7 linked regions of the Homo sapiens genome follow. The protein of the gene in region 4 interacts with the protein of the main gene of each other region in a pairwise test. Each region holds a gene or a part of one and is shown on either strand. Other genes may lie near its edges. The genes, in order: SH3BP5L, EVPL, KRT20, PLEKHA5, RBFOX1, PROM1 and CEP250.

Evidence for each region.
Region 1: the proteins of PLEKHA5 (region 4) and SH3BP5L interact in a two-hybrid assay, tested with the Homo sapiens proteins (one large-scale study listed by BioGRID and IntAct).
Region 2: the proteins of PLEKHA5 (region 4) and EVPL interact in a two-hybrid assay, tested with the Homo sapiens proteins (one large-scale study listed by BioGRID and IntAct).
Region 3: the proteins of PLEKHA5 (region 4) and KRT20 interact in a two-hybrid assay, tested with the Homo sapiens proteins (one large-scale study listed by BioGRID and IntAct).
Region 5: the proteins of PLEKHA5 (region 4) and RBFOX1 interact in a two-hybrid assay, tested with the Homo sapiens proteins (one large-scale study listed by IntAct).
Region 6: the proteins of PLEKHA5 (region 4) and PROM1 interact in a two-hybrid assay, tested with the Homo sapiens proteins (one large-scale study listed by BioGRID and IntAct).
Region 7: the proteins of PLEKHA5 (region 4) and CEP250 interact in a two-hybrid assay, tested with the Homo sapiens proteins (one large-scale study listed by BioGRID and IntAct).

What each region holds. Positions count from the first base shown.
Region 1 is NC_000001.11:248,819,064-248,823,546, reverse strand, and holds part of SH3BP5L (SH3 domain-binding protein 5-like), read left to right. Parts: intron 1-2,285; exon of another isoform or gene 2,286-3,144; intron 3,145-4,483. UniProt on the Homo sapiens protein: Functions as a guanine nucleotide exchange factor (GEF) for RAB11A.
Region 2 is NC_000017.11:76,020,064-76,024,546, reverse strand, and holds part of EVPL (envoplakin), read left to right. Parts: intron 1-426; coding exon 427-526; intron 527-892; coding exon 893-1,047; intron 1,048-1,128; coding exon 1,129-1,255; intron 1,256-2,008; coding exon 2,009-2,134; intron 2,135-2,319; coding exon 2,320-2,358; intron 2,359-2,518; coding exon 2,519-2,680; intron 2,681-2,765; coding exon 2,766-2,873; intron 2,874-2,983; coding exon 2,984-3,079; intron 3,080-4,483. UniProt on the Homo sapiens protein: Component of the cornified envelope of keratinocytes. May link the cornified envelope to desmosomes and intermediate filaments.
Region 3 is NC_000017.11:40,878,386-40,882,795, reverse strand, and holds part of KRT20 (keratin, type I cytoskeletal 20 precursor), read left to right. Parts: intron 1-141; coding exon 142-224; intron 225-2,025; coding exon 2,026-2,182; intron 2,183-2,534; coding exon 2,535-2,696; intron 2,697-2,857; coding exon 2,858-2,983; intron 2,984-4,410. UniProt on the Homo sapiens protein: Plays a significant role in maintaining keratin filament organization in intestinal epithelia. When phosphorylated, plays a role in the secretion of mucin in the small intestine.
Region 4 is NC_000012.12:19,135,713-19,140,195, reverse strand, and holds part of PLEKHA5 (pleckstrin homology domain-containing family A member 5), read right to left. Parts: intron 1-4,483.
Region 5 is NC_000016.10:7,708,639-7,712,029, forward strand, and holds part of RBFOX1 (RNA binding protein fox-1 homolog 1), read left to right. Parts: intron 1-417; coding exon 418-493; intron 494-855; coding exon of another isoform or gene 856-1,003; exon of another isoform or gene 1,004-1,984; coding exon 1,985-2,107; 3' UTR 2,108-3,391. UniProt on the Homo sapiens protein: RNA-binding protein that regulates alternative splicing events by binding to 5'-UGCAUGU-3' elements. Regulates alternative splicing of tissue-specific exons and of differentially spliced exons during erythropoiesis.
Region 6 is NC_000004.12:15,982,662-15,987,144, reverse strand, and holds part of PROM1 (prominin-1 isoform 1 precursor), read left to right. Parts: intron 1-1,107; coding exon 1,108-1,188; intron 1,189-1,316; coding exon 1,317-1,385; intron 1,386-2,789; coding exon 2,790-2,882; intron 2,883-4,483. UniProt on the Homo sapiens protein: May play a role in cell differentiation, proliferation and apoptosis. Binds cholesterol in cholesterol-containing plasma membrane microdomains and may play a role in the organization of the apical plasma membrane in epithelial cells.
Region 7 is NC_000020.11:35,461,675-35,466,157, reverse strand, and holds part of CEP250 (centrosome-associated protein CEP250), read right to left. Parts: intron 3,894-4,483; 5' UTR 3,791-3,893; coding exon 3,605-3,790; intron 2,584-3,604; coding exon 2,527-2,583; intron 416-2,526; coding exon 333-415; intron 125-332; exon of another isoform or gene 120-124; coding exon 1-119. UniProt on the Homo sapiens protein: Plays an important role in centrosome cohesion during interphase. Recruits CCDC102B to the proximal ends of centrioles. Maintains centrosome cohesion by forming intercentriolar linkages.

The sequences.
Region 1 (4,483 bases), on a different chromosome or scaffold from region 4:
TTGAAAACAGCCAATTTTTCTTGCTATTTCTACAGATTTATCATCCTCTGAGGAAATCAGTTGTAGTGAAAAAAGTCTTGGGCTGAGTTTCACGCTACCTCCAACCCCATGATTTATGATTTTTATGGAAGTTTCTTTACGTTTCTGAGCCTCAGTTTCTTCATCTGTAAAGTGAGCAGTTGGTCTAGCTGATTTGCACAACTCATTCTTGCTCTGCTCTGACACAAGTCTACAGTTCTTTCTCAAACTCTTTTTGCTTGTTCCTTGGTGATAGTTTGTAGATAGCACTTTGGGAAAGAGCTGTCTCTCTGTTGCTTGTGGAGGAGGGCTGTGTAATGTGCATTATATGCCTCCCTACAGCCTTCCTTGCCCTGCTCCAGAGAAGGCTTCTGCAGAGGAGAATCCACTGTGGTCTCTTTACTTGGCCTCTACTACTCCTATGTATTTTTCCAGTGTCTGCATAGGCACATGGTAGTAGTAGGAAGAGTCATGCTTGCATTGTGCTGTCTAATAGGGTGGACTAGCTGCATGTGGCTATTTAAACACAATCAATTAAAATTAACATGTAAAAATGCAGTTCCTCGGCCAGGCATGGTGGCTCACACCTGTAATCCCAGCATGTTGGGAGGCCGAGGCAGGTGGATCACCTGAGGTCAGGAGTTTGAGACCAGCCTGGCCAACATGGTGAAAACCCGTCTCTACTAAAAATAAAAAAAGCTAGCCAGGTGTTGTGGCGGGTGCCTGTAATCCCAGCTACTTGGGGGGTTGAGGCAGGAGAATTGCTTGAACCCAGGAGGCGGAGGTTGCAGTGAGCTGAGATCTGCCACTGCACTCTAGCCTGGGTGACAAGAGCGAAACTCCGTCTCAGAAAAAAAAAAAAAAGCAGTTCCTCAATGTTATACTGACAGTGCATAAATAGAATATTCTGTCATCACTGACTCTTCTATCAGATGAGCTCTATGAGAGTTGGAGTACACTGAGGTAGCGTAAGACTTACTTTGCCTCCAGTGAACTTGTGATGTCGCTGGTGCAGGAAAGGTAAAGCAGACCCTCGTCTCTCTTGCTAAACTGCACAACACGTTGTGGAATGTTGTGGGTTGTATAGGGAGGAAAGGTCTAGTAATAGCTTCCCTCATTTGATGACACAGGTGTGGGTACGCCAGTGCTCTGACCTCAGCAGGGAGTCAGTGTCTTCTTGCTGTGTGAGAGAGGCAGCCTGGCTTGAGGGGCACCCTTCACGGAGGAGGCCGGTGGCATTTTGCCCTTCTGTGCTTGGGCTTTCAAGATGAGGAGGAGATTGGGGTGTTTGTCTTTCGAGGTCCCTTTGAGTGTTGACAGTTCACTAGACCATGCACATTGCTCTGATCATGTGTTTCAGTGCTTTAGGTGGGTGTTCATTTCTCTGGATTCTCAGTGCATTTACTGGGTTTCCATCCACCGTCCATAAAAAGCCACCAGGGAGCTTCAAAAATACCCTTACCTGAGCCTTTCCAGACATGTGGATTCTCTTAGTCTGGGTGGGGTGAGAAGGGATTCTGATGTTACAGTCAGAGCCAAATCCACTGGGCCAGGTATATCCCAAAGGTAGAGCGCCTGTTTCGGTATTTTCTGAGGCTCCCGGAAATGGCTGTCCTTCGGATGAGGCCCTGTCTGACCTGGGGCTGGGGCTCCTTTGCAGGCAGGCAGCTCCATGGCCATTTATGGTGGGATTCCTCTGGAAGTTAGAAGGAAGTCAGCTGGTGCCTACCTGGAGCGTGCTGTCCCTCCAGGGAAGGCTGCTGGCTGTGTCTCCTTGTCATGATCTTAGTGGAGTTCTTTTGAGTCCTCCAGGCTCATCCTCAGCTTTCCGAGAGGGTTCCAGTGGAGGGAAGAGGAAAGGAGCGTGGATCTAGGATGGACCTGGGTCTGTTCTGTGACTTTCTCAGCCCCCTCTTAGTGGTTGCATTCTTTCCTCAGATGTGAGTGCTCTCGTTTACCTGCTCCTTTCCAAACTCTCTAGGGTGACTTTGCAACCTCTGTGACCTCATCTAGAAGTATGGGTTTAGCTTTCACAGGACAGTCATCACCCTGGCCCCAGTTACCATTAGTTTGAGTCTTTTGATGGTCTGCACTAGGTGGGGTGGGAGCATCTGCAGCCTGAGTCCCCATGCCTTTGATTCAGTGTCCTGGCATCCTGGGAATCTGACTGCTGTGCCCTGGGAAGGTCACCCTCCCTGCTGGCTGCTGGCTCACTGATGGATGATGCACGTTGATTCAGACTTTGTCCTCCCCAAATTCCGTTTCAGCTGAGTGCCAGGAGTCCCTGGTGAAGCAGGCCAAATGGAATGTGTTGCTGACTGCCCAAAACTGTCCCAGGTCCTCAGTGGATTCCTGCTCAGCCTTTCCCTGGGTGTCGCCTAGGTGGGCTATCCCCCTCCCTCCTGTGGTGACCTTGCCCTCCAGGCTGCTTTGCTCCCCAGGCATCTTCTTGTCCTGTTAGGGAGAGCTTTGTGACTCTGAGGGGACAGATCCCATCAGCAGATGGCTTTCTGTAAATTGCTGGAGGTGCCACTGGGAAGCTAGTTCCCATATAGAAAGATAATGCCCACTCCTGCCACTTGCCAATAGCAACAGCTCTTCTTGTCCTTTTAACAGTAGTAACAACTTATGCTGAGCCATCCAATCCATTGATGATCTTGTCAGGAGCTGGAAGTTGATGACTGGAAGCATTTGAGGCCATGGAATCCAGTGGGGATCCCGTCTTGGACTTTGATTTGCCACATGAACATTGCAGGGTGGCCTTTACCAACTGACCCCCCACAATCAATGTTTGTTGCATTTCCAATCCCTGTCCTTTTCCTACGTGGGCTGTGGTTTTCCTAGATTACAGCACTTCTTTCTTTACTGAGATGTCCTTCCAGTGGTGTCCTCATTCCCAGGAGGGTGGTCACAGTGGAAGGAAAGTGAGATCAAAGGTCGGTCCTGGATCCAGACCCAAGTCTGTCACTAATTTTCCGCCTGGTTGTTTCTCATCTATCAAATGCAAAGTTGCTGAGAAAGAATATTCCAGCAGGAGGTGCTGAAAGAACTGGTCACTCGTCTCCCAGATAGCCTAAAAGCCCCTGTAGGCCTCGTCAAGCCCCAGGAAGCTGGGCCCCCAGGGAGGTAGGTTGCCTTTCAGCTTGACAGACATTGCCTTTTTAGGGCCTGTTGGGGTGATCGTGTCAGTTGCTGGTGATGTCTCTGTTCGGAAGGCACTGTGAAACTTGGAGTTCCATGTGTCTGGTAGTGTTGATGCTGACCCTATGCCTCCTCTGGGGCCCTGAGCTGTGTTGGCTGCCTGTTCTTCCAGAATGGTTGTTATTTTATGGACACTGGGTTGTGGGACACTGTAGATGCATCTACCCAAATACAACAACTTCTAGACCTTCGCCACCCAACACAGGAGCCACATGCCACTGTCTAGGTTGAGATGTGTCACAAGAGTCAAGTGCATACGGATTGTGAAGACTTAGTTTAAAAAAGTAAAAGTATGGATAATAATATTATTTTATGTTGATCACATGTTGAAATATATTTTGTATATATTGGGTTAAATGTATTTTTATAATTTCACTCTTTTTTTAAATTTTTTTACTTTTAAAAAATGTGGCTTCTAGAATTAAAAATTCCATGTGCAGCTCCTGTTACGTTTCTGTTGAATAAGTCTCTTCGAGAAAATTTAGAGCAAGCTTTTCCAACCCGTGGCCTGTGGGCCGCATGCAGCCCAGGATGGCTTTGAACACGGCCCAATGCAAATTTGTAAACTTTTCTTAAAACATTATGAGATTTTTTTTTGTGATTTTTTTTTTTTTTTTTTTTTTTTGAGACTGAGTCTTGCTCCTTCACCCAGGCTGGAGTGCAGTGGCACAATCTCAGACCACTGCAACTTCCGCCTCCCAGATTCAGGTGATTCTCCTGCCTCAGCCGTCCCAGTAGCTGGGACTACAGGTGTGTGCCACCATACCCAGCTATTTTTTTGTATTTTAGTAGAGATGGGCTTTGCATCATGTTGCCCAGGCTGTTCTCAAACTCCTGAGCTCAGGCAATCTTCCCACCTCGGCCTCCTGAAGTGCTAGGATTACAGGTGTGAGCCACTGCGCCTGCCCACGATTTTTTTTTTTTTTTTTAAGCTCATCAGCTGTAGTTAGTGTTAGTGTATTTTATGTGTGGCCCAGGACAGTTCTTCTTCCAGTGTGTCCCAGGGAAGCAAAAAGATTGGACATCCCTAGTTTAGAGCCAGATTTGTGGCCCTCCTTAGGCAGGGTCTACACTGTTGTAGGTAGGTGTGTGCATTTTCATATCCTCATTCCTCGTTCCATTACAGGTTTCTACCTTTGTGTTCTTCCTGTTACTGTAATTAACATGTCAAACCATTTCCTGTATTCTTACCTGCTGACCCAGATCTTTTCAGGATCAAGGCAGGGGATGGGGGGAGGATAGAAGAGGTAGAAGGGACTAAAAG
Region 2 (4,483 bases), on a different chromosome or scaffold from region 4:
CTGCTGCCTCCCTGCCCCAGCCAGCCCAACTACCCCTCCCAGGGCCCAGCCAGGCTGGCTCAGGTGCTAGTGGCTGAGCCGGTGATTCACTGGCTCGGGGAGGGAAGTGGCAGGTAGCTAGGTGGGGTCGGGAACTCACTGCCAGCACAGCTGGCTAAGGCTGGGACACCGAGGCCGCCTGCCCCCTCCCCAGCACCACACAAACCTGAGACCCTCACCTTTTGACCCCTCATGTGGCGGGGCAGTGCTAACACCCCCAACCAGGACTAGCTCACAGAGCCTTCTGCAGAGAGAGACCCCAAAGTCAGGGCAGTGAGCTAGGCTGTGGGGGCAGGATGGGGTGGAGGGAGGGCAGGGGATGCCACCTGGATGGGGCACAGAGGGGCCTCTTCCACCGAGCTACCCGCTGTCCCCTCCACACACTAGGGCTGCCACCCAGGAGCTGGCCCTTCTCATCTCCCGCATGCAAGCCAACGCCGACCAGGTGGAGCGGGACATCCTGGAGACGCAGAAGAGGCTGCAGCAGGTGAGGCCCCGGCAGCAGTTGGCAGGGCGTGGACAGGCTGGGTGGCATGGGAGGCCCATCATCAGGCCTGGCACTCCCTGAGTGCCCCTTGGTGATGGTGAAGATGGGACAGATGACCTTTGTCCTGCACCGCCCATCCCCTAACACACGGTGGGAGAGAGGGCTCAGCTTCCTTCTTTTCTGGGCTCCCCTGTGTCCTTGTCACCTGCCCCACGGACGCCCTGGTCCTGACCCTGTGCCTGGCGTGGGCCTCAAGGTTGGCTAGCATAGCTGGGGTCCCAAAGTTGGGGCTCAGGCCCACAGTGATGGGCAGCAGGGGTGTGGGGGCTCTGGGCCCTGGCCAGTCTGCCCATCTCCTGCCCACAGGACCGGCTGAACAGTGAGCAGAGCCAGGCCCTGCAGCACCAGCAGGAGACGGGCCGCAGCCTGAAGGAGGCTGAGGTGCTGCTCAAGGACCTCTTCCTGGACGTGGACAAGGCCCGGCGGCTCAAGCACCCGCAGGCTGAGGAGATTGAGAAGGAGTGAGTGGAGCTGCGGCAGGGCTGGGGGTCCCTGGGGAAGACCCAGGTCCAGCCCTGACCTGCCGGCCACCTTCTTGACAGCATCAAGCAGCTGCACGAGCGGGTGACCCAGGAGTGTGCGGAGTACCGTGCCCTGTACGAGAAGATGGTGCTGCCCCCCGACGTGGGACCCAGGGTCGACTGGGCACGCGTGCTGGAGCAGAAACAGGTCAGGAACTCAAAGTCACACCCCAGTGTGATCAGAGGGCGATACGGAACTGCATTTAATCCAGGGCCTGACTGCAGGCTTGAATAGTCAGGGTGTAGGGGTGGCTCAGGGGTCTGGGCAGAGAGACAGCAGAGTAGACAGTGCAGTCAGGGAAGACTTCCTGCAGGAGGAGGTACATGAAGAGACCTCAGAGGGGTGAGAGGGCTCAGTTGGGCCAGGGTGAAGTAGTGAGGAGAGGACAATTCCAGAAAGAAGGAGCAAAGGTTCCTGCCAGGAGGAAGCCTGGGCTTCGACGGGAAGTGGGGATTTCTGGGCAGGTGGGCAGAGCCAGGTCATGGGACATTCTGATCCCTGGTTGAGGAGTTGTGCTTTGATGCCACACAGAAGGGGTGTCATCATGACAATAGAGGGACAGTGGGGAAGGGCCCGGCTGGAGCAGGGCATTCTGAGGGCCCTAGAGCTTGGCTGGTGGTGTCCAGGCAGGAAGCACTGAGGCTGGGTCACAGACAAGGCAGGATGGAGCTGGAGACTTCTTAGAGGCTGAGCCCAGCGTCTGGGAACCAGTGGGACTCAGGGGCCACTGCAGAATGGCCTCGCCCCTGGGGGAGCTGCAGGGCATGCACCCGGGCTGCTCCCAGGCTCGTCCACGCTCTGCCCAAATGACCAAGTCCACTTCTCCGGGTGGGAGGCGTGTGGGGTTCTCTGGCTCCCCACCGCGGTCCTTTGGGGACTGAGCCGCCGGCTCTCCTGCAGAAGCAGGTCTGCGCAGGCCAGTACGGGCCGGGCATGGCGGAGCTGGAGCAACAGATCGCCGAGCACAACATCCTGCAGAAGGAGATCGACGCCTATGGGCAGCAGCTGCGGAGCCTCGTGGGGCCGGTAGGTGAGCCTGGAGGATGTCACATCCGGGGCCAGCCCCAGCCCGTTTCTCCAGTCAGAGCCGGAGCTAGATCGGCTGGGCCCTGGGGATAGGGGTGGGTGGGGTATGGCTGGCCCAGATCTTAGGGGGCCGTCTCCCTGCACCCCACCTCTCACGGGCTTGTTTCTCCCCTTGGTCGAGGCAGGATGCAGCCACCATCCGGAGCCAATACCGAGACCTACTGGTGAGCAGGAGGGAGGGTCGGGCAGGGAGGCTGCGGGTGGGCCTGGGTGGCCGCCCGGACCCTGCCCGGGGCCAGTGTTCCTGAGCGCGGCCCAATGGCGCCTTTTGCCCCCCACTTTCTGTCTCCCCACCCTGCTGCTGGCGGCGGGTCCTGAGCACAGAAGGCGGCGTCGTGGCGCGGGCAGAGCCTGGGCAGCCTGTACACGCACCTCCAGGGCTGCACGCGGCAGCTGAGCGCCCTGGCTGAGCAGCAGCGCCGCATCCTGCAGCAGGACTGGAGCGACCTCATGGCCGACCCTGCGGGCGTGCGGCGGGAGTACGAGGTCGGCTGGCAGAGGTCGGGGCCAGGTGGGGGCGGCCAGGGCCATCCGGGTCCTCACCGCCGCTCCCCACCCGACTCGCCCCCAGCACTTCAAGCAGCACGAGCTGCTGAGCCAGGAGCAGAGCGTGAACCAGCTGGAGGACGACGGCGAGCGCATGGTGGAGCTGCGGCACCCCGCGGTGGGGCCCATCCAGGTGCGCTGGGGCAGGGCGAGAGTGAGAAGGGACGTGGTGGGCGGGGAAGGGGGGAGGTGGGGCGGACGTGGGGGGGGCGTGGTCCGAGGGCTCCATGCTGCCGTACCCAGGCCCACCAGGAGGCCCTGAAGATGGAGTGGCAGAACTTCCTGAACCTGTGTATCTGCCAGGAGACCCAGCTGCAGCACGTGGAGGACTACCGCCGGGTGAGCCCTCGGGCAGGCGGCAGGGGCGGCAGGGGCGGCAGGGGCGGCAGGGGCGGGAGCACAGCACCCCTGCCCACAGGAGAGGCACTGCACCTCCCAACTAGACAGAGCTGGCAGGGCGCGGTGGCTCACACCTGTAATCCCAGCACTTTGGGAGGCCGAGGCTGGTGGATCACTTGAGGTCAGGAGTTCGAGATCAGCCTGGCCAACATGGTGAAACCCTGTCTCTACTAAAAATACCAAAATTAGCCAGATGTGGTGGCACGCGCCTGTAATCCGAGCTACTCAGGAGGCTGAGGCAGGAGAATCGCTTGAACCCAGGAGGCGGAGGTTGCAGTGGGCCGAGATTGGTCCACTGCACTCCAGCCTGGGTGACAGAGAGAGACTCCACCTCAAAAATAAAATAAAATAGAGCTGTGTGGTTGCCACTCGGTCCCAGAGGGAAAGAAAGGCATGGGCACATTCTCAACAGGGTGAAGCGGTTCCCAGGGGGGTGAAAATTGGTTCTTACTGGCAGAAAAATATCTTAACTCTTTTTATGCATGAAGTCCAGATCCACATACAGCACCTAAGCTGTATACAGCATATCTGTGGTATTAAAATTTCGTGGGGGCCAGGTGTGGTGGCTCACATCTGTAATTCCAGCACTTTGGGAAGCCGAGCCAGGAGAATTGCTTGACACCAGTAGTTCCAGACCAGCCTGGGCAACATAGCAAGACCCTGTCTCTATACAAATAGATACATCTCTATCAAAATAAATAAATAAATAAAATTTTATGGGGATGAGGTGGGGGGAAATTAAATAAAATATTTCTTAAAAGGCTCTTTAGGAGAATAATAATGAAAAAAAAAACGGTTGAGAAACCCTGATATAATATGCAACTGGGATTTGGGGGCAGATAATGTTTCATACATTTTCCTATAGAACCACAAGACTGTGATCACACACGTTGACAAAAATTCCGTCAAAGCACCTGGAATGCTTCTTTAAAGCACAGCTTCTTCTCCGGGGCTGGGACAAGTGCAGCTCCAATACCCTCTGTCCCAGCAAGAAAGACTTCAGGTGCTGGAGGGAGGCAGGTGACGGTGCCCTTCATTTGTGCAGGAAGGACGAAGACCAAGTGTTTTATGACCCACTTAAAAAAATTAAGTTCAGTGCACAAATAAGACCCCATTTGCAAGAGCACACCAGTGATAAAAGGTCCTGCCGCCTGGGTAGGAAAAAGAAAGACCGACCAGAGTAGGGGAGAGTGACAGTTTAGGTTTAGCTGGTTTAAGTTTAGCTGGTTTAGGTTTATCTGGTTTAAGTTTATCTGGTTTGTGTTTAGCTGGTTTAGGTTTATCTGGTTTAAGTTTATCTGGTTTGTGTTTAGCTGGTTTAGGTTTAGCTGGTTTAGGTTTATC
Region 3 (4,410 bases), on a different chromosome or scaffold from region 4:
AGAGGTTACAGTGAGCCGAGATCGTACCATTGCACTCCAGTCTGGGCAACAGAGCAAGATTCTGTCTCAATAAATAAATAAATAAATAAATAAATAAATAAATAAAAAAGAAAATGTCATTCTTTCTCATGTATTTTCCAGATTAAGGATGCTCAACTGCAAAATGCTCGGTGTGTCCTGCAAATTGATAATGCTAAACTGGCTGCTGAGGACTTCAGACTGAAGTAGGTTCCCTAATACGTGGCAAAAGTTTCTGAAAAAGAATTCCTTTAGTAGTCCTTCCAGATACTCAGCTTTCCATATCATTGTTGATAAAGGAAGCACGGTTCAATGTCCAGAATCCTGAAGCCTAAAGGAGGTTAGAAGCTACATGTATGAAGCTAACCCAGCACTCAGGGATGGCCTTCTCTTTCTTGATCCCCCGGCATGTAACTAAACACCTCCAGTAACTACTATTCTCCTTGGTTATTACTGGTTGCTAAATTTTTTTTTAGTAACCTGGTATCTAAACCTAATTCTGCCCTTTGGAGTAATAACAAAGTAATTTACAATTCTCCTTCTCCCTAAGTGCCTTTCTGTTATCTAAAGAGAGTCTTGTGTCTACCCTTGGTGATTCTCCAAGTAATTCTCCACGTTCATTCAAGTGCCTGCAAGTGTATGACCCAAGTTCCAGGGGTGACTCTTGATGATTTCTGGCTTGCCAGTGTTTTACAGGATGGTCTGGCCAACCAAAGAACCAGGACCAATCTATAATAATTAGCTGGGCGTGATGCCGTATGTCTGTAATCCCAGCTACTCCGGAGGCTGAGGCAGGAGAATCGCTTGAACCTGGGAGGCGGAGGTTTCAGTGAGCTGAGATCGTGCCATTGCACTGCAACCTGGGCAACAGACTGAGACCTTGTCTCAAAAAAAAAAAGGAAGAAAGAAAGAAAAGAAAAAGAAAGTAAAAATTGTGTTCACTTTCTTTGTAGTCATCACACCACATGTGACCAGACCTGTTCCTTGCAAACAGCTTCCACACTAAGGCCTCTTCATCCTGAATTTGTACAATGCATTAACACCAAAAAGCCCTTTGTGGTTAGAAGGGTAGCCTTTTAATGCTCCAAGGGATTAACAAGAAGGAAATAGGAAATCAAATCCAAAGATGAAAGCAGTAAAGGTGCATTACTTCCAATTTTACCTAGCACTGAGTGTCACATTGCAGTGTCATTTTTTAAAGTTGGATATTTTAGGAAACTGGGCAGGGCATGCATGATGGCTAACGCCTGTAATCCCAGCACTTTGAGAGGCTGAGGCAGGAGGCTCACTTGAGTCCTGGAGTTTGAGAACAGCTTGGGCAACGTGGCAAAACCACATCTCTATACAAAAATACAAAAAAAATTAGCTGGGCATGGTGGCATACATCTGCTGTCCCAGCTACTTGGGAGGCTGAGGTGAGAGGATTGCTTGAGCCCCAAAGGTTGAGGCTGCAGTGAGCCATGATCACACCATTGTACTCCAGCCTGAGTGACAGAGTGGGACCCTGTCTCAAATACACACACACACACACACACACACACACACACACAGTGTGTATGTAAGATTGTAGAGGAGGATGTAGAGCTGTTTGAGATAATTCACTTTGGATGTCTCTGTTCACAAAGTAATAAAAATAAATCGATCATGTACATTCATTAAGTAAAACTAACCATTATTTAATATCAATAATAAGAACCCTTTGCCAACACAATAATTAACACAATTTAATTTCTTATAAGATAAATTCTAGAATTTAGAAGTGTTCAAAATTATTTCAGATTGCCTTTTTACCAGTCACCCCAAATTATAGAGATTATATTATTGAGCACATTTTCTGACTCCTAGGTTCTTATGTAAATTTCATGATTGTGTAAAGGCAGACATTATAAAGTATTGAAATTGATCTCCTCATAAGCCACATTTAAAAACCTATCCCATTATATTAGATTCTCTCCTTATAATGGCTTCAGAAGGACCAGTTATCTCTGTACACTAATTAATTCACAGGTATGAGACTGAGAGAGGAATACGTCTAACAGTGGAAGCTGATCTCCAAGGCCTGAATAAGGTCTTTGATGACCTAACCCTACATAAAACAGATTTGGAGATTCAAATTGAAGAACTGAATAAAGACCTAGCTCTCCTCAAAAAGGAGCATCAGGAGGTGAGAAAATATTCAGAAGTGGTATTGGAAACAATGGAATGGTTCTATATAATACTAATAATAGGAGGAGCGGGAGAAACAGGAGAAGGGGGAAGAGTTGGTGGTGATAGTGACAGAGATGATGACGATGACAATAATGATACAAGCCCTACCTTCTTTTCATAATGTTGTTGTAAGTTAAATGACTTAGAGCAGCACCTGGACCACAATAAGCCCAACACAAGTTATTATTTTATATCTTTTTTACTTATTCCCAATGAAAGAGGTCATGAGACTCCTTATGTCTTTTCTGCCCAGCCTTATCTGAGAATGTGCTTCAGACTAAAATCAATCAGAAATTTCACTTTCATAGGAAGTCGATGGCCTACACAAGCATCTGGGCAACACTGTCAATGTGGAGGTTGATGCTGCTCCAGGCCTGAACCTTGGCGTCATCATGAATGAAATGAGGCAGAAGTATGAAGTCATGGCCCAGAAGAACCTTCAAGAGGCCAAAGAACAGTTTGAGAGACAGGTAACCACACAATTCTAAAGGGTGAGCAAACGTGTAGATGCTTTCCTCCAGAAACAGATAACTCATTTTCTTTTTCATTTGTTCATTCTTCCTTTCTCTTTCTGTCTTTTCTTTCTTATTTCCACCCCTCAACTATTTTTTTTTCACTCTTGGCACTGTAGACTGCAGTTCTGCAGCAACAGGTCACAGTGAATACTGAAGAATTAAAAGGAACTGAGGTTCAACTAACGGAGCTGAGACGCACCTCCCAGAGCCTTGAGATAGAACTCCAGTCCCATCTCAGCATGGTAAAGCATATCTAACTTCTCTTTCTCAATCTAGTATGTGTTTACCAAGGTCCTCTGTTAGGAACTATAGAAATGCAAAGACCTACAAGAAATAACCCTTCCCCTTGCAGAACTGGCAGGGAAACAGGCCGAACAACTGATTATAATTAAAGGACAGAGAGAAATCGAGGAAAGGGCAATGTACTGCATGAATGCAGAGGAAAGAGTAAATCTGGAAGATTTCACAGGGAAAGTGGCATTTAAACCAGATCTTCTTGTAACTTTTAAGTTCAGGAGTACATGTGCAGATTTATGATGTAGTTAAACTTGTGTCATGGGGATTTGTTGTACAGGTTATTTCATCACTCAGGTATTAAACCTAATACCCATTGGTTATTTTTCCTGATCCTCTCCCTCCTCCTACCCTCCACCCTCTGTTAGGCCCCCATGTCTGCTATTCCCCTGTATGTGTCCATTATACCAGATCTCAAAATCTAAGATAAAATTTTAAGATGGAGAATGGACTAGAGACATTCCAGGCCAAGCAAATCAGCAAGCCCATGACAAATTATGTTGTGGTAAGCAGAATCCCTCAAACCACAGTGGCCTGCAGCCATGATACTACATCCACCGTGACATTTCCTTTCCAAGGGCAAGGCTAAAGGGGTAGGCCCTACCTAGGACATGCCAGTGTCCTGGCAGAAAGAAAAGAGCAATGGTTGGTCCACTTGATAGCTCTTAAAGCTTCTCCTTAGAAAAGGCATTTGTCCTTTGGGAGGCCAAGGCAGGAGGATCATTTGAGGTCAGGAGGTTGAGACCAGCTGGCCAATATGGTGAAACCCCATCTCTACTAAAGATACAAAAATAAGCTGGGCATGGTGGTGTGTGCCTGTAATCCCAGCTACTTGGGAGGTTGAGGCAGGAGAATCGCTTGAACCCAGGAGGCAGAGGTTGCAGTGAGCTGCGATCACATTACTGCACTCCAGCCTGGGCGACAGAGCAAGACTCCGTCCCAAAAAAAAAAAGAAAAAGAAAAGGCATTTGTCAGTTTGACCTGCATTTTATTAACCAAAGAGAGTCACATGACCCAGCCAGGTGTCAATGGATTAAAGGAATCTAATCCTGCAATTGAGAAATGCCACAGATCACATGGCCAGGTCTGATGAAGGAGTGAGAGGTATAACATCTTCACACAGTGGGGAAGCAAGTACTGAGAACAATGCTACAATGCGCCGCACTGAAAGAACAGTAGGTGCAAAGCTACAAGCAAAGAAAAACCCCAAGAGCTAATGATCCTAGCTGGCTGGCTGAGGTTGCCTAGTTGGGAAGAGTGGGAGATGGAGCTAGAAATATACACCATGCCCACAGTGATGAACTGCAGAGACCCTTCTCAAAGGAAATTAAAATTAACCCATCTCTTGAATCAAGTCCTCACATAAGAAGTGCCC
Region 4 (4,483 bases):
GTTTACTTTGACATTCTCTCCCCCATCATCCCACTCCCCAGACGGGCAGAATTTTTTGGTTTATTTCATTTACTGATGTACACTAATCACTAAGGCACACAACTATGAGTTCAAAATGTATTCAAGAGAATTGGAAGAACACATGAGTGAGTGACTAATTGGAAGACCTTGCCACTGGGACTGAGATAATCATTAAAATCAGTTGGCTAAACATTGTTATCTATTGGATGATAAAGAGCAGCTTCTGCAGCAGCTTTCTCCTTTTCATAAATTGCCATACCATACCAACCCCATCCCCCAAGTCTTTCTTTATATATAGCAATGCTTTCACTCAGGTTGTGGTCCAATCTCAAGACCAGGAGGCTATTTATTCTTCATCTTTCCAGTGACTTTACACTGCTCTATTCTGATCCACTCTGCAGGGGTTTGGAGCTTAACTGTGAGAAATGCCTCTCCCAGCAACCCCCACAACGGGCTAAGGCCTTTCAATATACGTAGTCAAAACATTAGATATTCTTCATAGCATTTATCACAGTCTATCTTACATATTTGCATGATTATTTTATTACTGGCTCCCCCACTAATTCAACTATAAAGTTCTTAAGAGTAGTGTCCATGTCTGTTTCATTCATAAAGCTTAAAGCACTTGGCACACAGTAAATATTCAATAAGCATTTGTTGAATGAATAATTAGATGGATGAATATGAAATTCCCAGCCTGAATCTATAAATAGCTAGATAGTCATTTAGGTAGCTGAGATAGGATAGGGGAGTGGGTTGTGTTTGCTTTTTGAGGGGAGTAAAAAGATAATGTCAGGAGTCCTTTGTGAAAGTCGGATTTTAGCCACCTGAAATGCTATGTCCTCTCAAGCAGCTCAAAAACCAAACCACCATTAATATGTCCACCTGGGGCTCCCCCTCCCACACCTACTCCTTTATTCCGGTCAAGGGTCTCATCATCATTCTTGTAGACACTCAGACACAAAGGCTTTGAGGAGCTTTTGACCTCTTTTTTTCTGTCAACCTCCTTGCTCAGCAAGACTCCTAAGGCCTGTCAGCTCGTCTTTAACATCTTTGATCAATGGCCTTTCCTTTCCATTCCCGCTGCCACAAACTTAGTTCAAGTAACTACCCAATTATGGCAACAGACTCAGAAATGGTCTCCTTGATTCCCACTTTGCTCCTGTCCAATCCATGCTGCCTGTATTGAAATCTCCCTAAAACCTTCATGTTGCATAATTAACGCTATACTAAAAAACATCTGCAAAGGCTTGCCCGGAAAATAAAAACCTCAGCCTGACATTCAAAGACCGGACACAGTATGGTTCCAAACAGCATTCCTAGACTCACCTCCCATCATCCTAGCATTTTCTACAGAACCATCACTAACAAGCCTAGTTAGTATTACTCATCACACATATTCACATATTATACGTGTTCCCAGCCCCATGAATGTATCCTCCCAGTCTTATCAACTCATCTGAAAGTGAATCCCATCTATACCCTCAGGCCTAGCTCAACTCCCACCTCTTCAAGTCGTTCCAGGGCAGCCCAGCCTAGGCTGCCTCTTCCTCCTCTGAATTCTTATGACTCAAACTAGCATCTTCTTTTTTTTTTTTTTTTGAGACAGAGTCTTACTCTGTCACCCAGGCTGGAGTGCAGTGGCGTGATCTCGGCCCACTGCAACCTCTCCCTCCTGGGTTCAAGCGATTCTCCTGCCTCAGCCTCCCGAGTAGCTGGGACTACAGGAGCCCGCCACCACACCCGGCTAATTTTTGTATTTTTAGTAGAGACAGGGTTTTACCATGTTAGCCAGGTTGGTCTCAAACTCCTGACTTCAAGTGATCCGCCTGCCTCAGCCTCCCAAGGTGCTAGGATTACAGGCATGAGCCACCATGCCGTGCCATTTTTTTACACCATTAACTCTAACTTACACATACACATATACACATAACTTTTCACCCTTAATTTCATCTTATATTTATCTGTTATTTAAAAAAATGAAACAGTCACAAGAAAAGAGCATCTGCTAACAAATTCAAAGAAATTCCATCCTGTATAGGACAGACAGGTCCTATGTAAGGCCCTGTCTCCAGGTCATCGACTCTTCAACTCTTCCAATACTTTTTGTGTTTTTGTATTGACCACTTCCTCCCCCTTCCTAAATATAGGCCAGCTTTGAGAATAAGAAGAAACGAAGGGGTCTATCCAGATTAGGGAAGAAAAAGTCCCTTGACAAATCCAGAAAGTGTTCTTAAAATGCAACCACTTGAGTTGTGGGGACTATTCTTTCCCCATCTTGATTAACTCCTTAAATAACTAGGAGCCAGCATCATCATCATCACAGATACCACTTCTTTAGAGGCTGACTAGATGCTGGGCATCACAGGAAATACAAGGAGGATATTGAGCAAACCTGGCCCTAAGCAGTGGTCCTGGGGCTAAAAATAAAAGAATTCCACAACAAAGTCTACTGAGGCTGGTAGTCCTGGCACACCAACTTGAAAACGAAAGAGACAACAACAACAAAAAGGCTATTGTGAGGATTATAGGAGTTTAATGCTATGCTGAAGTGCCTAGCACTAAATAAGTCTATGTTCCCCAAACCATCTCCCTGTTTTAATATACTGCATATTTATCTCTACACTACAAACTCCTTGAAAGCTGAGATCATAGTTCGTAGTTGTTTTGTAACTAATGAATTAGCATAAAGTGCTTTATCAATGTAAGGAATCACATATTAACAGTCCAAAACTCTTGTTATAAATATGGAAAAGAAATATAATGCCCACAAAGTGTTCTAAAGAATTATATAGCTCTAGTAATCAAAATTTGGTTATATTATTATAGAAAGTATAAAACAGTTTTTGGCCAGGGGTGGTGGTAATCCCAGCACTTTGGGACGCCGAGGTGGGCGGATCACCTGAGGTCAGGAGTTTGAGACCAGCCTGGCCAACGTGGCGAAACCCCTTCTCTACTAAAAATACAAAAAATTAGCCAGGCGTGGTGGTGGTGGGCACCTGTAATCTCAACTACTTGGGAGACTGAGGCAGGAGAACTGCTTGAACCCGGGAGGTGGACGTTGCGTGAGCTGAGATCATGCCAGCCTGGGCAACAAGAGTGAAACTCCGTCTCAAAGAAAAAAAAAAAGTAAAGTATAAAACAACTTTAAATATCAAATACATAGTTAATATATTCTAATGTTTTTTATGGCACTTGTTAGATTCCCCATCTTCATTCATATTTTGAATTGTGAAAATCTGAAGAAACAGATTTTTCTCCTTACTTGCAACGCTAGTTTTGGTAAGTTTGGAATTAGCATACATTAGATCCAGCTATTGCAGATATTGAAACAAAACCTCATACTCTATTTGCCTATGTAAGAAAAAGTTCAATTTTCAGAACTTAGAATTTTAAGTTAAAAAAAGCAGTATGAAAACATAACCTTAAAAAATTTGCATACTATTTTACCCCCGCAAATATTGTTTTGATACCCAGTCCTGCAATGACCTTTAAATAATCAGAATAAAGTTTCTCACTATTCAGAGAGCCTTAAGATTTACTTGGCACTCTAAGTTAACCATCTTAAAGCTTTGAAGCACAAAGGAATAGTAAATGACACATCCATTTTAAGTTACCATGGCCTGTCATTACAGAATCATTAAGCAATATTTTCAAGGAGCAAGCAGAAAGCTTTATAACTCAAACGTATAAGATTTTCTTCTGTGCTTTATGGGCTAAGTTATTTGCGTTCTCATAAGAATACGGAATATTTAAAGCCACACTTTACAAGTTATAAAATTCACTTATTTTCAGCATTCTTCATAAAGATAACAGCATAAATTAAGTTATAAAAACAATATGAAAATTCAATAATCAAACTCAAACTCTGTGTAATGTATTTACACACACAAACACATAGTAACATAATTAAGAGGCTGGCTAGCTTAGGGCACATAGAAAAATTATTCAGAAAAAAAGTATTAAATATCTTTAAAGATAAAGATTTTTGGCCAGGCACCATGGCTCATGCCTATAATCCCCCATTTTCGGGGACCAAGGCAGGAGGATTGCGTGAGCCTAGGAGTTCAAGATCAGGCTGGGCAACATAGGAAGACCCTGTCTCTCTCAATCAATCAATCAATCAAATTAGCCAGGCATGGTGGTACACACTTGTGGTCCCAGCTACTCGTAAGGCTGAGGTGGGAGGATCGCTTAAGCCCAGGAGGTCAAGGCTGCAGTGTGTTGTGATAGAGCCACTGCACTCCAGCCTGGGTGACACAGTGAAACCCCCCTCAAAAAAAAAAAAAAAAACAAAGTAAGATTTTTCATATTTTACTGTTTTTTGGCCAAATGGATGTGAAGGAAAATACATTCTCTATATTACATATTTTTTTAATCTAGCTGCAAACTTGTATTAAAGAACCAATTTCAAAGTGTATAAAATAAACTGATTAACTCAAACCTATACAACTCTTACGCT
Region 5 (3,391 bases), on a different chromosome or scaffold from region 4:
TGAATGGTGACAGCTGAATCAGGAGAAAAAGGCACTCTCTTGAGAATTAAAATACCCTCTGTGGGTGCTGGGCTTAATACTTGAAGTTGTTTCTTTCTTACCTACCTCAGTCTCTAAGGCAGCTACTTGAGCAGTGTAGAAACAGTATTATGGGGGGAGGCAGGGAAAAGCATATGTAAGTACGTGTGTATATATGTATTTATCTGTCAAACATAGCAATAGCAACCATGTTAAATGCACAAAAAATGTATCATGTACAGATGAACTCTTCTTATACTACACAGCAGAGTAGAATTTGCTTCTCACTGGAAGATGAGTAGGGCCCCTGCATACTGTCTTGGTATTTTGGATTTTATGATTGTTATTGTTTTGTAATTGCATACTGTGGATCAATCTTCACCTCTATTTTCCTTTCAGTTACGGACGAGTTTATGCTGCCGACCCCTACCACCACGCACTTGCTCCAGCCCCCACCTACGGCGTTGGTGCCATGGTGAGTACAAGTTTCTCCTTGTCCTCACTTCCTCCTGCCTCCCTTCCCTTTCCCCAGCTGGGACCTCAGTACGGGTTGACGTCCTCTCACTTCCCGTTAATTGAATTTGTCTCTTGTGCTAACAGCAGCTAAAATGCCACATTAATCCTCCCAGTAAACTTGATAAATGTCTTAATTTCTTGGCAATGTAGTGCATGTAAGTTATTATATTTCTAATTTTGCAAGTCTCACCTAGCAGAGCACTTACCTTAATGGAATAATTAGTCATTTTGATAATTAAATCCATCACTAACAGAATGCAGTGTCAATGCAGAACTTTTTTTTTTCTTTTTTTTTCCCTCCCTTGCTGCTCATTCACATAGCCCCAAGGTTCCAGCCCCAGCACAGACTTCAGAGGAGCTAAGCTGCACACTTCCAGGCCTCTGCTGTCAGGCAGCTGAGAATCTGACTGCCTCTCCTCCCCTATTACAATTCATGTTTAAAGTCATAGTCGCCCAGGAAAGAAAATAGAGAGGGGCACACTTTGTGTGTGTACCTAGTACATAAGAAAGTAGAAGGAATCAGCTGGGTTTGGGGGTTGCCTTTTGTTTTGGGGCAGGTCTGGGTTTTTGTTTTGGGAGGGGGTGGGGGGAGGGTAAAAAATGGGAGGTAAGGGTGGGGTGAACTTGCCTGTACTTGTTCAAACTTCTATGCACTGAAACTCTTGAGTACAGTAAGACGTGCCCATCACGTGAGAGCATATGCAATCATTACAAAGCTTTGGCATGCAGTTTTCTGCTTGGATCAAGAATATCAGTCCTTACCCTAAAAATGAATCCCCATAGGCATTCATTTGAATTGCCAATACTTTTAGAAAAAGGAAATCGTTAAGTGCCACCTTGTAGCCATTAAAACCATGGCCGGACAGTTCACTGAAGCTCAGTCATAGAAATTCAGCCATGATTTGGAAGCATTGTTTTGCACAAGCTTAATTACATCAAGCAATTCATCTGTACAACTCCACAACTCCCTTCTCAAGATCAGATTCCATACAGCTTACAGAGCCAAGTTAAGTAAGAAGTAGGTTGAGATTTTCATCCCAATTCTGCATTCAACAACTCTGCTTCAACACCTAGTCCACATGAGGAATGTGTTGGAGAGTTGAATTACATTCAACAACTGGTCCAAATTCAACCTCAAGTGCAGATTATTCTGTTATAAAAAAATGAGACAGTGAAAATCCTTCCATTGTCCAGCTTATAATAGAGTCCTTTTAGCTAAGAGGACTGGCTGACAGAATTTGGTTTTGCAGGGAATTTCTTTAGGAGGAGCTATTGGGGAAGGTCAGGAATGGCCCTATCTTTAGTTCTCCAAGAATGACCTGGGATGGGTAGGGGGTGCCTCCATTTCGGTTGGTTTTGAGTGTCTATTTTTCACATTAGTCTTTTTGATGATCCACATGTTGCAAAAGGAAAATGTAAAAAACACACCCCTCAAATTGCTTTGTTTCAGAATGCTTTTGCACCTTTGACTGATGCCAAGACTAGGAGCCATGCTGATGATGTGGGTCTCGTTCTTTCTTCATTGCAGGCTAGTATATACCGAGGGGGATACAACCGTTTTGCTCCATACTAAATGACAAAACCATAAAAACCTTCCAATGTGGGGAGAAAGGAAGCTTTCCGAGGCCTGAGTATTGCAATACATGCAGTAGTACATCATTTTAGCAACTCTAAAAAAAAAAAAAATACAAATAAAAAGGAAAAAAAATTACATTTTTTATCTTATACCTCAGATATTTTGTTCTGTGTATTTTAATATTGTGGGTCTTTAATTTCTGAAGGTTCCGTAGTTTGGTTGCTGGCTGTAGGAGTTTTTGTGGTTGATCTAGACAGATGCTAGATAATGAATAAAAACTGGTTTAGGGCCATATCCAGAGTGCTATATTATGTAAATGAATTATATATGCTGAATATTAAGCTACTGGGGTTATCAGCTATTTGGGAAGAGTGTAAGTGACTACAGTAGTCATTTTTTTCTGCACCTGCATTATTTTATTTTGCGAAAGGGGAGGTTGGGAGGGGCTTAGGGGATTGGAACTGGGGTTTGGCTGAAAGAAAAAAAAAAAAATGTAACTGATGAATCTAAACGACCCACTGCACCAACAATCATTTATCAATGGTTCTAAGTTACTCATTGCCAGTTCAAGCCAAAGGTCATGTTGTTAAGGGGGTGCTTCTAGTAGCACTTGTGCATCTGAGTTGAATGAAGCTGTGCAAACCCACCCTTTAAACCATTCCACCCGGCAGTATTCAGCTTCTTAACCAGTCGCTATTTAGGAAAAAAAACCCACTAGTTAGGCCATCAACAAGCATTCTTTTTATATTTCTTCCAGTATAATAAATTATTGATATCACTGCTGACTTTTATATTATGGGAGGGAAAAAATAACATTAATAAAAAGGTGATAAAAAAGCACTGTTTCTATTTTTTTCTTTTTTTCCAAAAAAAGAAAGTAATAAAAACTTAAATTCTTTGTACCAGTTAAAAAAAATGTATAAAATTTACATCTGTGCAGTGGAGTTGTTAAGTTCTAGAAACAGTCTATGAAGCTTTAGTTTTAGCCTAGTAGAACAACTGTTAGAGACAGACGTATAATTTTTATGGAATTACATGATAATCATATTCGGATTTATAGAAGCATTTTACAAGTATTGCAATCATTGAGTAGAGATAATCATGGTATTTTCATCAGCTTGGTACTTTTTGAAACGTGACTGCGTTGTGTGAACAATCTGCAATTTTTCAGTCCGTGAGATCCTGCCCTTCCACCTCTTTCCCATACCCCCAAGGATTATCTCAAAATGATCTCTTTAGTTCTGTCTCCAAGGCCCAGGACACTTGTCAGAAGGATGCAAA
Region 6 (4,483 bases), on a different chromosome or scaffold from region 4:
CGTTCCATTGGCCAAAGCAAGTCACATGGTCACACACATCGTCGTCTGGCTGGGGAAGTATACTCCACGCTCTGGGAAGCCATCCAAGGAGCATATCAATAATCCTGAACAGCTAATGCAATCTACCTACCACAGGGGCCATGTGTGGGCTGCAAGCATTCCCTCAGCAGACACAGAGCTGCAAGGCTGGGTTGTATTCATCTTGTATCTACAGTACCAATGGGCAACTCAGAAGATATTTTTTCATTGAACGGAATAGTCTGTACATGACAGGTTTTGGGTATCAGCCCCACAGGATAAAACTAAATGTTCCTCCTTCCACTTTTCTCAGTGAGACCAACATCATGGCTCAGCTCCTTTGAAGATGTTTAGATTTACTCTGCTCCAGGACCCTCGCTATGCCTCTGATCACAGTTGCCATTTCATAGGTGTGTGTCTCATGCCAGGGGAACCTGGAAACACACCAGTGACTACGTGCAGGTGCTTTGCTACCTCTGTGAACAGGGCGAGGGTGTGCAGTGGTGCAAGGCCTTTCATGAGGGGCCCAGCCAAGGGGGTTAGTCGAGGGCAGAAACTGGCCATTGACTGAGTTGCCAGGCTCTGTGCCCTGAGGTCCCTGGGCAGAAAAGGCCCCATTTCCAATTTGCACCAAGCTGCCATGTGGGTTGGCAGAGGACTCGTCTTTGCTTGTGTTGTAGTGCAAAGACTATGGGTTTTGTAGTGAAAAAAAAAAAAGTTCGGTGCAAATCCCAGCATTGTCGTATGTTTCCCCAGCATGGTGACCGTGAAGAGGCTGAGCTGCCTCATTTGTGAAGGGAACCTAACAAACAGTACCTTCCTTCCTGCCTCGTTGTGAGTTTCCAGCAAGTCCAGCAAGGCCATTCCTATCAAGGACTAGCCCAGTGTCTGGGCTAGAGTAAATGCTCACTTTCAGCTCATCTCCTTCCCTGCCCTCAGGGGCCTGGGTGGGTTCTGTCTTCCTCTTAACTAGCAGGTCCAGGTCGTGGTGTTGCAGAGCTGAGTTACAGTACTTGAATCAATATGCAAATTGTCTAATTAAAACTTTCTATGACTTGATACCCTGATAACTGTGGCTGTGTCTTTCAGGAGAGAGTAACTAGGATTCTAGCTTCTCTGGATTTTGCTCAGAACTTCATCACAAACAATACTTCCTCTGTTATTATTGAGGTGAGCCTTCTTTTTTAAAGTAAGCGTGTCCATAAGTGGGCACTTGAATGTTACAGATTAAATATTTATAATGTTTAAGTATGCTGTCATCATTTTAATGCTTCTACTCATCTTTTGTTTCTTTCCAGGAAACTAAGAAGTATGGGAGAACAATAATAGGATATTTTGAACATTATCTGCAGTGGATCGAGTTCTCTGTAAGTAGTTTATCTTTTATGAATGTTAAGGGGGGTCAAGTTTCAGGATAGCCATTTTCTAGGGTAAAATCTGGAAGAAATAAAATTAAATTTCCCATAATTTGGTAGGAAGTAAGTGAAAGGACATTGATGTGCAGGACCAAGACTTCTGGGGCTTCCCACCAGGTCAGAGGACAGCCACCTCCTGGTCCCCTTTGCTCACCTTTGCCATATGCAGTTCTTCCATTTGCTTCCCACCCCCTTTTTCAGGTAACAAAGGGGCCAGGTAACAAATTTGAACTAAAACACTATGCTGGGCACGAGAACTTTTTAATTCTCTCAGAGTCCTGTAGGCTGGGTCTCACTGTTCCAAAACAAATGAGGAAACTGGAAACCGAGGCTCAGAGAGAATAAGGATCTTGCTTTAAAATATATACAATTGTCCCTCAGTATCCATGGGTTATTCGTTCCAGAGTCCCCTGCAGATACCAAAATCCTTGGGTGCTCAAGTCCCTTATATAAAAGATATAGTTATTTGCACATAACCTATGCACATCCTCCTGTGTGCTTTAAATCTCTCTAGATTACTTATAATACCTAATACAATGTACATGCTATGTAAATAGTTGGTATACTGTATTAAAAAAAGTCTGTACATGTTCAGTAAAGGTACAACTATCCATTGTTTTCTGAATATGTTTTAATCTATGATTGGTTGAATCCATGGATGCAGAATTCAGGGATATGGAGGGCCGACTGTAACTGTATATGCAGAACTCATCCATGCACATCAGCCGTCAGTTCCATGTCTTAGAGCAGCAGTCCCCAGCCTTTTTGGCACCAGGGACTGGTTTAGTGGAAGACAGTTTTTCCACAGGCCGGGGGTGGAGGTAGTTTCAGGATGATTCAAGGGCATTACATTTATAGTGCACTTTATTTCTATTATTAATACATTGTAATATATAATGAAATAATTATGCAATTCACCACAGTGTAGAATCAGTGGGAGTAATGGGAGACAGTGACAGATCATCAGGCATTAGATTCTCATAAGGAGCACAATTGAGATTCCTCGCATGTGCAGTTCCACAATAGGGTTCATGCTCCTATGAGAATCTAATGCTGCTGCTGCTCTGACAGGAGGTGGAGCTCAGGCAGTAACATAAGAGATGAGGAGCAGCTGTAAATACAGGTGAAGCTTTGCTTGCTCACCCGCCCCTCACTTCCTGCTGTGGAGCCCAGTTCCTAACAGGCTGTGGACCGGTACTAGCTGGTATCCATCTGTGACCCAGGAGTTGGGGACCCCTGTCTTAGAGGACATGGAGATCCTTTTTGTGACACCAAGTCAAAAGTAAATGGCACGTCTCATTCCTTTGGGTTTTTGTGGATGCAGCTCAAAGTTTCCCTGTGTTTCCACCCCCCTAGATCAGTGAGAAAGTGGCATCGTGCAAACCTGTGGCCACCGCTCTAGATACTGCTGTTGATGTCTTTCTGTGTAGCTACATTATCGACCCCTTGGTAAGATTTCATCTTTCAAAAGAAGACACAATGAATCCATCATCTTTGGTTGTTTTTCTGGATTATGATATACATTATAATATTTGTTTTCTGCTTGAGAGAATCCAAAACCTAAAATGTAATATTTTGATCAGTGTATTGAGATGCTAATAGACTAGAAAAGTCAAAGTTCTGGGCGGTTGTCTTCTTTCCTCACTAGGATTATATTTATGAGTCAGGAGACCTGCAGGGAGAAAACTCCTGTTAGTTCAGAATAATCAGAAAGACAGTCACGGGTGTGCAGATTTCTCATCTTCAAAAGAATACTCAGTACAACTACATTTACAACCCCAAAGTTGCATCAAATTTCATTTGTCATTAAAAAGCCCTTAGAAATGTGACTATTGGGATGGTAAGTTCCAGTTAGTCAGGCTTAATCCTCAGCTCTGTTCCCTCCTCAACAGATGCTGACTCTCTCTGTGAGTGGATCCTCTCCCTCTGCTGAAAGCACCTCAGTGGCTTCCCATTGCTATCTAAAGATCAGGATTCCTCATAGCCCATACTAGGCTCTGCATGGCTGAGCCTCCCCATTCCAGATCTCACTGTGTGCTCTCTGCCTGCCCGCCTTTCTTTCTGTGCTCCAGACATACTCATCTTCTTTCACTTCATCAAATAAATCTCAATTTCCCCACCTTAGGGCCCATGCACATGCCGTTTCTTCTGCCTGGACTGGAGATGGGCACACGCCGCCTTTCTCTTTCTCTCTCCTCTTCCGCTTCCCACCTACCCACTCCCCACTTTAAGACCTAACTCCTCCAGGTCTGGTAACACAATGGTGGAGAACATCAACTCTGAATGAAAATTCCACTTCTACATTTTCAGAACTCTGTGACTTTGAAAAATTCCTGAAATTTTCTGAGTTCCTCGCCTACATGGGCTGTTTTGATGATTCAGTGAGAGGTCACATGTGAAGCCCTTCACGCTGTTGGAACATCAGCACTCAATGAATATTCACTACTATTGTTGTTCCGCCTTCAGGTCTTAGCTCAAACATGTCTTTTTTCCAGGAAGCCTTTTCTGATCCCCAAAACTAGGCTGAGCTCCGTTTTCCTCATTCCTGTAGAACTCTATGCTTTTCCTTTAGAGATGTTATTGCTGTTTCAATTACATATTTATATGTTTCTTTGATTAAGACCTGTCTCTCCAGCACACTCTAGACTCTCCACTCCATGAGTCACCAGTGCATTCAAGGCTGTGTCCCTGTTGTCTGGCATAATACCTGGCACAGAGTATCACTGATGCATTGTCAGGTAGCTCTCTGGCACAGTTCATCCCTATTGCCCTGTCTGTCCACCTCCCTCGTTCACTTGTCCATCTGTCTGCTGGAGGGTCTTTCATGCCTGAGTGAAAAGGATTCTGCCTCCGACCCAACCACGCAGACCCTAGGCCCTGCTTCCTGGATGCTTCCTTCTTCTTGCAACTACTTTTCTTGTCCTGTGCTTGGTGGCCCCTGCCGCCAGCTTTGGCTGAAGCCTTCATTAGGGGAGTCCAGAGCCAACCTGCTTGATTCTGAATTGACGTCTCTCTATGTCCAGCCTCCACCACCCACCCCATTCAGTCGA
Region 7 (4,483 bases), on a different chromosome or scaffold from region 4:
GGGCCCGGCTCCAGTCCACTGTCAGTTTTTCCACATCTTCCCTAAGGGCTTTATTCACCACGTCAGCTTTTTCCATGTGCAGTCGAAGCTGGGTGTTCACCTCTGCTAGACTCTCACACCTGCACTGGGGAGGGGTAAAAGTGGGTGCAAAATAAAGGTCTAGTCCAACCCTTGGACCTCCTGGGAGTAAGATGGCAACCACTGAAATTTTCCATTGCAGGAATTAGAGGGCTATGGCTGAAGTCCACATTAGCCCTCAGGGCAGAAGTTTCCCATCAGCCTTCTCCACCAACTGGCCAATCACCCAGGTCAGAAAGTTTGGGGTCCATCACCTCTGTTGCTCCTCCTCCAATCGGACCAGCAGCTCATCCAGGTTTGGCTCCTCCACATTTTCCCACCTCTGGGGGATTGGTCCCTGCGCCAGACAGAGACAAGCCTTACTTACCTCCAAAGAGAACATCACTCAGACCAGTTCCCTAAGGCTCCCTTCCATGGCAGTCCACTTTCTTTTTATTCTTTCTCCCCTTTGTTAGCAATATGCTTCTATTCTCAATCACTGCATCCCTCACTCCAAAAGTAAACTGATGACCTCTCCTGAAAGACGGCCTTCAGTAGTAAATAGAATCTTCAACTTAAGAAGTGATGTATCTTTCACTAATGGCCTTAACTTCCACTACACTAACGGTTTGACCTTGGGAAGTGACTTAACTTCTTTCATTTTTTTTTTTTTTTTTTTTGGAGACAGAGTCTCGCTCTGTCGCCCAGGCTGGAGTGCAATGGCACAATCTCAGCTCACTGCAACCACCGCCTCCCAGGTTCAAGTGATTCTCCTGCCTTAGCCTCCCAAGTAGTTGGGATTATAGGCACCTGCCACCACACCTGGATAATTTTTGTAGTTTTAGTAGAGATGGGGTTTCGCCATGTTGGCCAGGCTGTTCTTGAATTCCTGGCCTCAAGTGATCCACCCACCTCAGCCTCCCAAAGTGCTGGGGTTACAGGCATGAGCCACCACACCCAGCCTGTGAAGTCACTTAACTTCTTGGAGCTACAGTGTCTCCAGCTACAAAATGAAAGCGGTATATCGTTCCCTTCAGAAAGTTGCTGTGCAGGTTAAGAGACACAATTATAGATGCTCCTTGACTTATGCTGGAATTTCATCCCATAAATCCATCATAAGTTGAACATAAGTTAAAGGTGTGTTTTCAACTTACGACGTTTTCTTTTTTTCTTTTCTTTTTGAGACAGTCTAGTTCTGTTGCCCAGGCTGGAGTGCAGTGGCATGATCTCGGCTCACTGCAACCTCTGCCTCCTGGGTTCAAGTGATTCTCCTGCCTCAGCCTCCCGAGTAGCTGGGATTACAGGCACGCACCATCATGCCCGGCTAATTTTTTGTATTTTTAGTAGAGATGGGGTTTCACCATGCTGGCCAGGTTGGTCTTGAACCCCTGACCTTGTGACCCACCCACCATGACCTCCCAAAGTGCTGGGATTACAGGCATGAGCCACTGCGCCTGGCTGACATTTTCAACTTATGATATTTTCAACTTAACAGTGAGTTCGGGCCAGATGCAGTGGCTCACACTTGTAATCCCAGCAGTGGGAGGATTGCTTGAGTCTAAGAATTTGAGACCAGCCTGGGCAACATAGAGAGACCCTGTGTCTACAGAAAATAAAGAAAATTAGCCAGATGTTGAGGCATGTATCTGTAGTCCCAGCTACTTTTTGGGAGGCTGAGGTGGGATGATCGCTTAAGCCCAGGAGGCTGAGGCTGCAGTGACTCATGACTGCACCAGTCCACTCCAGCCTGGGCGACAGAGTAAGTAGGACCCTGTCTCAAAACAACCAACCAACCAAACAAACAAAAACCAACCAAACAAGCAAGCAAAACAACCCCAAACAATGGGTTTATCCAGCTGTAACCCCATCATAACCCAAGGAACATACTGAATGCATATAGCTTTCACATCATCATAAAGTTGAAAACTTGCAACCATCCTAAGTTGGGGAGGACCATCTGTATATGACAGTGCCTCATGCTGCCTGGACTGCATTGAGGGTGCTCAATAAGTTTTGGTTCTTTCCTTCCTCTGAGAGAACTTTTCTGAGGAAAATGTGAGGAGGTACTGAGAGGCAGCTGGAACAAAGGCAAATAAATGGGTTTTTCAAAGCCAGTTCTAATAGCACAGACATCCCTTTGCTGCAGACATGCTGTAGGCTCGCAAAGGCCTGCATCTTTCTAAAAGAAACACTGACACCTGCTGGAGGAAACATGCACTTCTTCCTGCTAATCCCACACTCCTTCCAATCTAATTTACATTTCGTCCTTTGAAAACCAAGGGTTGGAATCTGACAGGCCAGCTAGGTCCAATGAAGATATCAGTGTGATAAACCTCTCAGAGGCTGAGAAAGAGAGCCTTCCACCAAACACCTCACTTGTACACTCCAACCTCCCTCAGTCAACAAATGAAACCTAACAAGTATATTCACTGAGGACCCAGGGGGTGCAGAGAGCTCAGCCTCACTCACTCCAGTGGCTTCTAGCCGCTTCTCCAGCTCTTGGCACCAGCTTCGGTACTGCAGCACCTGCAGCAAAAAGAACAGGCCCTGGGCAATGAACACAGCTGGCACAAACAGCCCAAAGCAAAGGCCCCTGAGGATCTTAGGCAAACTTGCTATGAACAGGGGAAATGGGTGGTGACAGTAAGGTAAGGCCATAACATCTTATAGTTTCTATTTGGGCATTTTTTTCTTTTTTGAGATGGAGTCTCGCTCTGTGTCCCAGGCTGGAGTGCAGTGGCACAATCTTGGCTCACTGCAACCTCCGCTTCCCAGATTGAAGTGATTCTTCTAACTCAGCCTCCCGAGTAGCTGGGATTACAGGCATGCGCCACCACACTCAGCTAATTTTTGTATTTTTAGTAGAGACAGGGTTTTGCCATGTTGGCCAGGCTGGTCTCAAACTCCTGACCTCAGGTGATACACCTGCCTCGGCCTCCCAAAATTCTGGGATTACAGGCATGGGCCACCGTGCCTGGCCTTATTTGGGCATTTAAATAATACTTTCTATATGAGCGAGACTCTGTCTCAAAAATAAATAAATAAATAAATAAATACTTTCTATATGCCTTTTATATCACAGAGGCAAGATCATGGGCTTTGGCTCTAGACTAGCTGAAGAAACCTGGATAATTAACTTAACCCTTGTGAATTTCATCTTTAAAGAGATATATTAGCCAAAAGTGGTGGTGTACACCTGTGGTCCCAGATACTCCAGAGGCTGAGGCAGGAGGACTGCCTGAGCCCAGGAGGTTGAGGCTGCAGCGATCTGTGATCATACCACTGCACTCTAGCCTGGGCAACAGAGCAAAACCCTATCTCAAAAATAAAATTAAATTAAAAGGATATAATACGTACCTCATGGAGCAGTTGTGAGCATCAAAAGAGAAGCTGTACATGAAAGCTAGAAGGTCTGGGTCTTATCTCACCATGCTAGATGTAGGCCACTCCCACCACAAGACTCTGCCTCCTGCAACCCTTATCTCACCTCAGCACCTAGCTCTGGGGGTTGTTCTCTTTCCCCTCCCCAAAAGGGCAGCTGCCTCACCTTGGCCTGCAGCTTCCTCACAAGGGTTGCTTGTCTCTGCTGGGCCTCCTGGGAGTTCTTCAGCTTCCGCCAGGAGGCTGCCTGATTCTCTGCCATCTGCTGCTGTAGTGCCAGCACCTGCTCTTCCAGTACCAGCTGCAGTGACTGGGGCTTCATGTTGTTCAACCCAGGGCTTCTTGTCTCCATGAGGGCACCAGGTGGTAGGCCCACAGGTCCCTAGGTAGCCAGAGGGTGTTCACGCCCAGCAGGGTCTCTAACCATTGCCATGCCACTTCAACCTCCTCTTGAACTGGGGACCAAAGCACATAGTCAAATGGAAAGGACTGTTCTTTTACTACACACAAGACTCCTCAGAACCTTTAAAATACTAAAAGGGACCCTCATCTCTGAAGGGCGCTATGATGAGCATCATTCCCCAAATTTAACTGACCATGAGACAAGCTCACAGGACTAGTGTCTCCTGGCATGACTTTTGGAACTCTGCACTAAACCAAGAGCTCCTGGTTTATCACTGCATCCTTAGTTCCTGGCACAGTGGTTCAGAAACATTTGTTGAATGAATCGCTGAAGGTGTTCTTAGTCTAGCAGGGGAAATAGACACAAACTATTACAATACATACAATGTAGCATGTGAAATAATAAGATAATATGAGAAAACAAAGGAAGAGAACCCAGCCTGGGAGCCTGTGAACTGTGTGAATCATCATCATCATTGTTAACACTTGCTGAGTGCTTCTGGAGGGCTGTTGCTTTAAGTGCTTTACATGCATTACGTCATTTTGTTTTTACAAAAATCTTGAAACCTTCCAATGCCTTCTCATTACACTTCACCAAACGTACTATTATAACTCTTTATATATAGATGAGGAAACTGGGGCT